Linked DNA regions of Homo sapiens: region 2 is linked to region 1. The links come from fine-mapping of genetic effects on gene expression. A gene starts in region 1. The other region holds a variant in brackets. All regions are shown on one strand. Distances are between the middles of the regions.

Evidence for each region.
Region 2: its variant is fine-mapped to the expression of TGFB1I1 in lymphoblastoid cells (GTEx, PIP 0.99).

Annotation. Positions count from the first base shown.
Region 1 is chr16:31,469,160-31,474,528 of GRCh38, reverse strand. It overlaps TGFB1I1 (transforming growth factor beta 1 induced transcript 1), which reads right to left and starts at 2,377. Exons shown (of 11, transcript NM_001042454.3): 1 at 2,328-2,377; 2 at 973-1,088; 3 at 795-847; 4 at 552-694; 5 at 290-377; 6 at 74-179. The coding sequence starts at 2,340. RefSeq lists an enhancer at 1,498-2,038.
Region 2 is chr16:31,448,040-31,453,408 of GRCh38, reverse strand. No RefSeq gene overlaps it. Among named protein-coding and RNA genes, the nearest start is that of ZNF843, 7.9 kb to the right of the region's middle. RefSeq lists enhancers at 1-726, 1,307-1,601. The variant G/A (reference allele first, on the strand shown) is at 3,009.

The DNA.
Region 1 (5,369 bases):
AAGCAGCAGATGTGGAATTGTCTAGAAGGGGTTGGGGAGCCACAAATGGACACTGGCCCACTGCCCAACTCACATGGTTTTGAACGCGGAAGTCAGAGAGTGAGGCCATCAGTCTATCCAGCTCCAGAGTGGCTGAGGTGGCAGAAGCCTTTGGGAGGCCAGGAGACGGGCTGGAAGGGCTGTGAAGAACATGCTTGTGTCATCTCAGAGCCTCCCAGAGCAACGCTCCCTCTAGTGACTCAGATATCCAGGACTCATCTCTCAGCCCTGACAACGACGCCAAACTCACAGGCTGGGTCTTTTCTTATCTTCAGACTGGTCCTCCTTCTGCTCTCCTGAAGCCACCTTGCTAGATGGGAACTGAGACATGATTTCATCTGGAGAGAGGAGAGGAGGACGCTACATATAGGGCCATGCTCAACGCACCCTCACACTTGAGGCTTTAGGTCCCTTTAACTGCTACTCTGGGAAGTGTATTCCTCTTAGTCTCTGCCCCACCCTTCCCTCCCCTGCCCCTATCGCATCAAGGCCTCTCTCAGTCACCCTGGTACCTGTGATGTTGAACTGAGTGGCATTAAGTTCCTGAAGCAACCGATCTAGCTCACAGAGCCCGGTACCCAAGACACCGCTGGAAGAGGAGAATGGAGGGGCCGCCGGGGCTGCAGGCTTTGGGGACCGAGGCTTGCATACCGTGCTGGGAAGCAGAGTGGGAGCCTGGGTTCAGGGGTGGGGAATCCAAGCCTCCTCACCTGAGACTCAGTTGGCCCCCATGCCCTGGTTTCCAGGCCCCTCACCTGTACAGGTGGTCCTTGTCCCCCGAGGCTCCTGAAGACTCCCCAGACCCTGTCTACAGAGCGGAGACGCACAGGTGGGATGACAGGCCTGCACTCTGCCCCACTGAGGCTGAGATCCCCATAGACCAGGCCGAGCCTGGCCCTAGTGGCTGCCCCAGTCCCCAACATCCGATCTCACCTGTGGCTGGTGGCCATAGGATGGGGGAGGGGTGAGAGGCTCCGCAGGGCGCTCTTTGGGAGCCCCTGACCTTGGCATGTGCGAGGTGGTAGTCTCCAGGTCAGAGAGCAGGGCATCTGCAGGAAGAGGCCATCAGGGAGAGAGACAAGGGTCACGGTTAGATCAGAAGATAAGGTTCCCAGTGGGCAGTACTGGAGAAGGACAGAAGCCAGTATTAAGAGAAGAGGTCACAGGGCCAGAGCCAGGCAGAGCACTGCTCGAAGGGTAGCAAGGAATATTTATGACCAGAATATCCCAGTTGCTCACGCTTGGAGCCAAGCACAAACCCAGCCTCCTGATTATTTTATTCTCCCCATCTTCTCTGATGCAGTCAAAATGGGCTCTTCACCCAAGCCAAATTTGGCTCCCCTCCAAATTGCTCCATTGGCCCAGTGCCTGGCCCTCAGCTTTCTGATTGGACGCTCTCTCTTCCATGCTGGTTAACTCCTCCCTCTACCTACACAGGCCCCGCCCAGCCTGGCCACTCCCAGGCCCCTGAGTCCCGCCCTGGGCTCCTCACTGGCGCTTCGCTGGGACCTGCCTTCTGATTGGCTGTTTATCTGCGGTACAGCGTCAGTTACCCCTACCGAGCAGCGCCCTCTACCGCCAGGGGCCGGAAGCCCCTCTCTCCCGTGGAGCGCACAGCCTTCCAGCCCCAGGCTTCGCAGGGAGGACGAGATACCTGGGTCCCCCTTCCGGACAAGACACCTCTCTCCATCCCTGCATCCCCAGATCCGGGTCTTTTGAGCCCTTTCACTTCCAGAACCCAGAAGTCCTGCCCTCAGTCTTCGTCTCTGAGCACCCGCGTGAAACCCTGAAGCCTTCGCGGGCGCCTAGGCACTCCTGAGTTACTATTCTCTTCCTTGCCTCAAGGACCTGACCCTCACTGTGCTCAGGAGCCCTTAACTCCTCCTCTCCCAAAACTCTGGTGCAGGCAGGCCCGCTTTTTTTCTCCAAAACTTGATGCCAGACTTTCCCGTGCCCTCTACTTTCCCGGTCCCCGGGCCGAGGCCCCTTTAACCCCTCCCTCCCCAGAGCCCCGCGCCCGGGCGCCCGCGGGCGCCGCACCTCCCGTTCCATCTGCCGCAGCCTGGGATGGAGGAGCACAGCGAGGGAAGAAGGGAGGGAGCGGCCGGCCCAGGAAAGGCAGGAAGGGAGAGGCAGGAAGGGGGACGTGGAGTTGGAAAGGAGGCGCGGGCAGAGGCGAAAAGCAGAAGTAAGAAGACAGGGATGGGGAGATGCGGGAGAGCGACGGCGGGGAGGCAGCTCTGGGCAGCGGTGAGGGGCCACGGACCCGGGGATCCGGCCCCACTCACCCAGGTCCTCCATGGCGGGGCGCGGGCCGGTGGCGCGGGGCGAACAGGGCGGGGGCCGTGTCCGGTGGGGGCGGGGGGCGGGGGACGTCCGGGAGCTGGAAGCCCGGCCGTGACCATGTAAGGAAGCCGGGACCCGCTGAGATGGGGATGGGGGGGCGATGAACGGGGGAACCCGAGGTGGGGGCGTGGAAAGGAGGGAGCGCCCCGGCCCACCCGAGCCCAGCCCGCCGGCCTGCCGCGGAGGCGGCCACACCCCAGCCTTGGCCTCAGCTGCAGGGAGCCCCAGGAGGCCAGAGCCAGAGAGAAGTGGCTTCTCCAGACCAAGCCCCAGAGCCGCTCCCTAGGGAGACTTACAGACACGGACTGAGGCCCCCAAACAGACACCGCTCAAAGCTAGCGCCTGAGTCCTAGACAAGAGCCTCCCTCCCACCCATGCCATTCCTGGGAGACTTGTCCCAGACGGAATTTTTGGATTGGTAGCAGGAGTGATATTCTAAGGCTCAATTAGACCTCAGGTTCGGAGACCCTCCCATCGGAGACCCTGACAGATAAATAGAGGCCCCAAGAGGCATACATACCAGACACAAAGAAATCTGAGGGACGGGGACAGACACAGTGAACCCACCCACAGACTCTACACTAGGACCTTCCCTCCAAGACTTGGTCATGGACACACGTAAACTCGAACCCGGGCGCAAGCCCCTTGCAAATTCGGGGAAAACACTCCCAGGCAACCAACCCCCAGCCAGCCTGCAAGACAAAGCCCTTCCTCAGCACTGAGGTGGCCCAGGCCTGCTCTGAAACAGCCCTTTCCCAAGTTACTGATGAACTCAGAGCAGAAAGCAAGACACAGTCTCCAGCCACAAAGTGGCAAGGCCTTCCCTGGACTGAGACCCTGAGAAACGAGGTGGAAACGAGAGGCCATAGAGGTAGTTATGGACAGACAACTGTGCTGCAGCCACTCTTCTGGACAGATCTGAGCACTGGAATGTGAGTATCAACCCAGCAGCAAATCGGAACAACCTGGGGAGCTTTTTAAAAATGCGAGACAGGCATGGTGGCTCACACCTATAATCCTAGCACTTTGGGAGGTCAAGGCGGGCAGGTCACTTGAGGTCAGGAGTTCGAGACCAGCCTGGCCAACATGACAAAACCCCATCTCTACTAAAAACACAAAATTAGCTGTGCGTGGTGGTGGGAGCCTGTAATTCCAGCTACTTGGGAGGCTGAGACAGGAGAATTGCTTGAAACCTGGAGGCAGAGGCTGCAGTGAGCTGAGATTGTGCCACTGAACTCCTGAGCAACAGAGGAGACCCTGTGTCAAGAATAAAAAAGAAAAAGAAGAAAAAATGGGCAAACGACCTGAATAGACAGTTCAAAGAAGTTATATAAATAGCCAATGATTACATGAAAAGATCCTCAACATCATTAGTCCCCAGAGAAATGCAAATCAAAACTACAATGAGATGCCACATCATACCTATTAGGATGGCAATAACAAAAAAGACAGGTAATTAGGCAAGGAGCAGTGGCTCACACCTGTAATCCTAACACTTTGGAAGGCCGAGGTGGGTGGATCCCCTGAGGTCAGGAGTTCGAGACCAGCCTGGCTAACATGGTGAAAACAGTCTCTACTAAAAACACACAAAAAAATTAGCCAGACATGGTGGTGGGCACCTGTAGTCCCAGCTACTTGGGAGGCTGAGGCGGAAGAATCCCTTGAACCTGGCAGGTGGAGGCTGCAGTGAGCTGAGATCGTGCCACTGCACTCCAGCCTGAGCAACAGAGCGAGACTCCATCTCAAATAATAATGATAATATTTTAAAGGCCAGGCTCAGTGGTTCACGCCTGTAATCCCAACACTCTGGGAGGCCGAGGCGGGCGGATCACCTGAGGTCTGGAGTTGGAGACCAGCCTGGTTAACTTGGCAAAACCCCGTCTCTACTAAAAATACAAAAATTAGCTGGGTGTGGTGGCAGGCACCTGTAATCCCAGCTACTCGGGAGGCTGAGGCAGGAGAATCACTTGAACTCGGGAGGCAGAGGTTGCAGTGAGCAGAGATTGTGCCACTGCACTCCAGCCTGGTGACAGAGTGAGATTCCGACTCAAAAAAAAAAAAAAAAAAAGCTGAAAAGAAAGAGGTAATTAGCAAGTTTTTGTGAGGATATGGAGAGATTGGAACCCTCACACATGGCTGGTTGGAATGTAAAATCGTTCACTAACTTTGGAAAATGGTCTGGCAGTTCCTCACATGTTTAAACATAGAGTTATATGATCCAGCAATTTCCCTTCTAGATATGTAACCAAGAGAAATAAAAGCATATTCCACAAAAAAACTTGTACATGAGTATTCATAGCAGCATTATTCATAATAGCCCGAGTGGAAACAACCCAAATGTCCGTCAACTGATGATTGAAGAAATGAAAGTGGCATATCCATGTCTTAGTCTGTTTTGTGCTGCATCGTAGAATGCCTAAGGCTGGATAATTTATAAAGAATAGAAATATCTTTCTTTCAGTTCTAGAGGTTGGGAAGTCGAAGGTCAAGGGCCCTGCATCTGGTGAGGGCCTTCTTTCTGCCTCATCCCACAGCAGAAAGCAGAAGGGCAAGACAGTGCAAGAGAGGGGGTGGGGTGGGGGCAGAACCCATCCATTTATCTATCAGCTGTCCACTCCCTTGATAACTAACCTACTCATGCAATAATGCCATTAATCCATTCATGAGGGAAGAGCCCACATAACCTAATCACTTCTTAAAGTTCCCACCTCTCAACAGTTGAATTGGGGGTTAAGTTTCCAACACATGAACTCTGGGGTACATGTTCAAACCACAGCAATCCATAAAGTGAAACTGTATTATTCCTAATAAAAAGAAATGAGATGCTACAGTGTGGATGAACCTTGATAACATTAAGCTATATGAAAGAGGCCAGATATGAAAGATCACACATTGTATGATTCCATTTATATGACATGTCCAGAATAGGTCATCTGTAGAGATACGATGTAGATTAGTGATTGCCTAGGGTTGGGGGAAAGGGA
Region 2 (5,369 bases), 21 kb after region 1:
GCATAAGACTGACTCCAGTACAGTCACAGTTATGTCTCTGAGCTCACCCAGTCCTGGGTTCCAGGTTCCCAGCTCTGAGCCTGGCGAGACACACACAGGCTGGTGCTGTGGGATGTCTTGGTACGGTGGCTCACGCCTGTATTCCCAGCGCTTTGGGAGGCCGAGGTGGGCAGATCACCTGAGGTCAGGAGTTCGAGACCAGGCTGCCCAACGTGGTGAAACCCTGTCTCTACCAAAAATATAAAAATTAGCCAGGCATGGTGGCACGTGCCTGTAATCCCAGCTACTTGGGAGGTTGAGGCAGGAAAATTGCTTGAACCCAGGAGGTGGAGGTTTCAGTGAGCCAAGATCGTGCCACTGCACCCCAGTTTGGATGAAAGAGTGAGACTCCGTTTCAAAAAAAAAACAAAAAAAACAAAACCAAAAAATAAAAAAACACATCAGCTTGACATTTTGGAGGCATTCCCAGACTCAGGGTTAGTCAGCAGATTAGCATTTAAAAGAAAGTCTTGTCCCTACAGATTCCCTGACCTCAGCTACCCATGAAGGGTGGGAAGAGGAGTCCTTAGCAAGAAGTCCAGGAAGTTGACAACCTCCTCAGACCTGATAGGACACTCCTCTCTCCACCCTGCCTCCTGACTGATTTAATCTCAGGGGTGTGAGGACCTCTGAGATAGGCCCCAGGAGTCTCACCCGCACCACTTATGTCTCAGGGCTAACCAGAGACTCCCTGAAACAGATCCTAGAGGATTCCCAAGTGATAGGATAAATAGAGAGGTACTGAGACTTCCTGGCGTGGGTGACCTCTCCCAGGCTGGCCAACCTCCCCCATTCAGAAATTTGCTGAGCACCAGGAGTGAATGAAGTAAAGGAAGCCCCTAGGAGTTCAAGAAGCAGAGATTTCCAGGTCCATGCACCAAAGCTCATGTGCTCAATTCTCAGGAAAGGCCTCACTCAGTTAAAAAATTTTGTATCATGAAAGGGTAAATGAATTAATTAGTGAATCTGGTTTCTAAGCCAATGGCTTACTAGAAATATTATAGTAAATCAGAAAAAAAAAAAAAGGCGGTGGCTCACACCTATAATCCCAGCACTTTGAGAGGCTGAGGTGAGAGGATGCTTTGAGCCCAGGAGTTCGAGACTAGCCTGGGCAACATAGCAAACCCCATCTCTAGAAAAAATTAAAAAACCAGCCAGGTGTGGTGATGTTCACTGTAGTCCCAGCTATTCAGGAGGCTGAGGCAGGAGGACCGCTTGAGCCCAGGAATTTGAGACTGCAGTGAGCTAGGATTGTGCCACTGCACCCCAGCCTGGGCAACAGAGTGAGACCCTGTCTCTAAAAAAATAATTTTTTTTAAAGATAATTCTTCAAAGGAGATCCGCTCTTCCTTTCCTACACCCATTCCCTTTCCTCCCTTTCCTGAACAATGCTGTCTTACAGCCTCTAGGGGCAGGCAGAGCCAAAGAGGCCTCTGCCGGGTGTGGGGAGTGAGACGCAGCAGGCCAGAGCATGTATCAGAGCTCCAGCAGGTGGGGGAGGGTGTCCACACGAGAAGGTGGCCTGGCTTGGCATGGCAGAACCTGATAGGATTAGGAAGGCATCAGCCACGGGAAGGAGATGGCGAGAGAGATAAGAAACTGCTTCCACCAGCTATTGGTCAAATAAGTACACATTTGAAAGATAACAGCCAGGTTTCTCAGTGTCAGAGAAAACCGAGACACAGCTCGGGAAAGGGAGAAAATGTGGGTGGGGAGACCCTTGTGGTGTCGAATTGGAACTGGAGGTATAGGAGTAGACTCAGGATTTTCAGAAAGTGTTTAGATAGACATAGAAATTAGTATGGGTGTGTATATGTGTATGTGCACGCAGATGTGTGTAAATGTCCATATATTCCCTAGCTCTGGAAAGCCCTGGAGCAGTGCCATCCCAATAACAAAAAGCTTTTTATGGTTTTTTGAGATAGGGTCTCTCCCTCACCCAGGCTGGGGTGCAGTGGTGCGACCACAGCCCACTGCAGCCTCGACTTCCTGGGCTCAGGTGATCCTCCTGTGTCAGCCTCCCAAGTAGCTGGGACTACAGGCATATGCCACCACACCCAGCTAATTTTTAATTTTTTTTTTTTGTAGGGACGGGTCTTGCTACGTTGCCCAGGATGGTCCTGAACTCCTGGGCTCAAGCAATCCTCCCACCTCAGTCTCCCAAAGTGCTGGGACTACAGGTGTAACAGTTTTAAGGTAATCAGAATCAAGAAATGATTGAGGTGATGCTCTGGAATAATGGGGACTAGAGAGTCGTGACAACTAAATGCAATGTGTGGTGTGGTAGCATTTTTCTGGGCTGTAGTCCCTAGATGGGTAGAGAAGAAAGCCCCGGAGAGGGTGAAGAGGTGGGGATGTGGAAGACGTCAGAGAGAGCACAGGGCAGAGCGCAGAGAACTGCATCCACAGGCCTCGCCATGCCCCCAGCATGGCTGCACCACACCAGCAGATGCCTTCGCTTCCCAGCAGTGGACACAGGTCACTGGATCCTCACAAATGAGCAGCCAGGAGAATGTTTGCAGCCTGGAGATTCGGGGCTTTGTCAGCACCTTGGGAAGGTTTTGTTCTTGGGTTTTGGGTTTTTGGTTTTTGGATTTTTTTGGTAACAATATCGCTATATTTATTCTCCTGCAGTACACTTTTAAATTGCTTCAACATTTTCCCCTTAAAATAAAAAAGAACAACAACAAAAAAATTCCAAACCTTAGAATTGAAATATTTGGCCTTTTCTCTCTCTCTTTTTTTTTTTTTTTTTTTTTTTTGAGATGGAATCTCGCTCTGTCGCCTAGGCTGGAGAGCAGTGGCGCGATCTCAGCTCACTGCAACTTCTACCTCCTGGGATCAAGCGATTCTCCTGCCTTACCCTCCTGAGTAGCTGGGACCACAGGCGCATGCCACCATACCAGGCTAGTTTTTTTTTGTTTTGTTTTGTTTTGTTTTGTTTTGTTGGTATTTTTAGTAGAGACGGG[G/A]TTTCACCGTGTTAGCCAGGATGGTCTCGATCTCCTGACCTCGTGATCCGCCTGCCTCGGCCTCCCAAAGTGCTGGGATTACAGGTGTGAGCCAGTGCACCTGGCCTTGGCCCTTTCTCTTTTTATTTCCTCGCAGTTCTCTCCCTTTTTTAAAAAAAATAATAATAAATTGAATTTATAAATAGAGGCAAGGTCTTGTTATGTTGCCCAGGCTGGTCTCGAACTCCTAGGCTCGAGGGATCCTCCCACCTTGGCCTCTCAAAGTGCTGGATTACATGTGTGAGCCACCCCACCTGGCCCCAGCTCTCTTAATTGCCAGCACTCCTCTTGGAAGTCCCTCATCTTGATTACCTTATTTAAGGTCACCTCCTCACAGGCCCTATCTTTTTTTTTTTTTTTTTTTTTTGAGAGGGAGTTTCGTTGCTTTTGCCCAGGCTGCAGTGCAATGGCGTGGTCTCGGCTCACTGCAACATCCATCTCCTGGGTTCAAGCCATTCGCCTGCCTCAGCCTCCCAAGTAGCTGAGATTACAGACATCTGCCACCACACCTGGCTAATTTTTTGGAATTTTTAGTAGAGACGGTGTTTCACCTTGTTGGCCAGGCTGGTCTTGAACTCCTGACCTCAGGTGATCTGCTTGCCTTGACCTCCCAAAGTTCAGGGATTACAGGCGTGAGGCACCATGCCCAGCCAGTCCCTGTCTTCAAATACAGTCACACTGGGGGTTAAACAATGTATAAATTTGGGGGCGATACAAACATTCAGTCCATAACACCCCCTATACCCCAACCCTAGGCAACCACTAATCTACATCTTATCTCTACAGATGACCTATTCTGGACATGTCATATAAATGGAATCATACAATGTGTGGTCATTCGTGTCTGGCTTCTTTCATATAGCATAATGTTATCAAGGTTCATCCACACTGTAGTATCTCATTTCTTTTTATTAGGAATAATACAGTTTCACTTTATGGATTGCTGTGGTTTGAACCTGTCCCCTAAAGTTCATGTGTTGGAAACTTAACCTCCAATTCAACTGTTGAGAGGTGGGAACTTTAAGAAGTGATTAGGTTATGTGAGCTCTTCCCTCATGAATGGATTAATGGCATTATTGCATGAGTAGGTTAGTTATCAAGGGAGTGGACAGCTGATAGATAAATGGATGGGTTCTGCCCCCACCCACCCCCTCTCTTGCACTGTCTTGCCCTTCCGCTTTCTGCTGTGGGATGAGGCAGAAAGAAGGCCCTCACCAGATGCAGGGCCCTTGACCTTCGACTTCCCAACCTCTAGAACTGAAAGAAAGATATTTCTATTCTTTATAAATTATCCAGCCTTAGGCATTCTACGATGCAGCACAAAACAGACTAAGACATGGATATGCCACTTTCTTCAATCATCAGTTGACAGACATTTGGGTTGTTTCCACTCGGGCTATTATGAATAATGCTGCTATGAATACTCACGTACAAGGTTTTTGTGGAATATGCTTTTATTTCTTTTGGTTACATATCTAGAAGGGAAATTGCTGGATCATATAACTCTATGTTTAAACATCTGAGGAACTGCCAGACCATTTTCCAAAGTTAATGAATGATTTTACGTTCCAACCAGCCATGTGTGAGGGTTCCAATCTCTCCACATTCTCACAAAAACTTGTTAATTAACTGTCTTTTCAGCTTTTTTTTTTTTGAGTCGGAATCTCACTCTGTCACCAGGCTGGAGTGCAGTGGCGTGATCTCAGCTCACTGCAACCTACGCCTCCCAGGTTCAAGTGATTCTCCTGCCTCAGCCTCCCAAGTGACTGGGATTATAGGCGCCTGTCACCACGCCCAGCAAATGTTTGTATTTTTAGTAGAGACAGGGTTTCACCAAGTTGGCCAGGCTGGTCTCAAACTCCTGAGCTCAGGTGATCCGCCCACCTCGGCCTCCCAAAGTGCTGGGATTACAAGTGTGAGCCACTGCCTGTAAATATTATCATTTAAAAAATATCATTTTTAAAAATATTATTTAAAAAAAAAATTTTAATGTTTTTTAAATATTATTTTTAAAAATAATAATAATGTTATTATTATTTGAGATAGAGTCTCCATCTGTTTCCCAGGCTGGAGTGCAGTGGCGTGATCTCAGCTCACTTCAGCCTTCACCTGCCAGGTTCAAGTGATTCTCCTGCCTCAGCCTCCTGAGTAGCTGGGACTACAGGCACCCGCCACCATGCCTGGCTAATTTTTTGTGTGTTTTTAGTACAGACTAGGTTTCACCATGTTCACCAGGCTGGTCTCGAACTCCTGAGCCCAGGTGATTCGCCCACCTCAGCCTCTCAAAGTGATGGGATTACAGGCATGAGCCGCCACTACTGG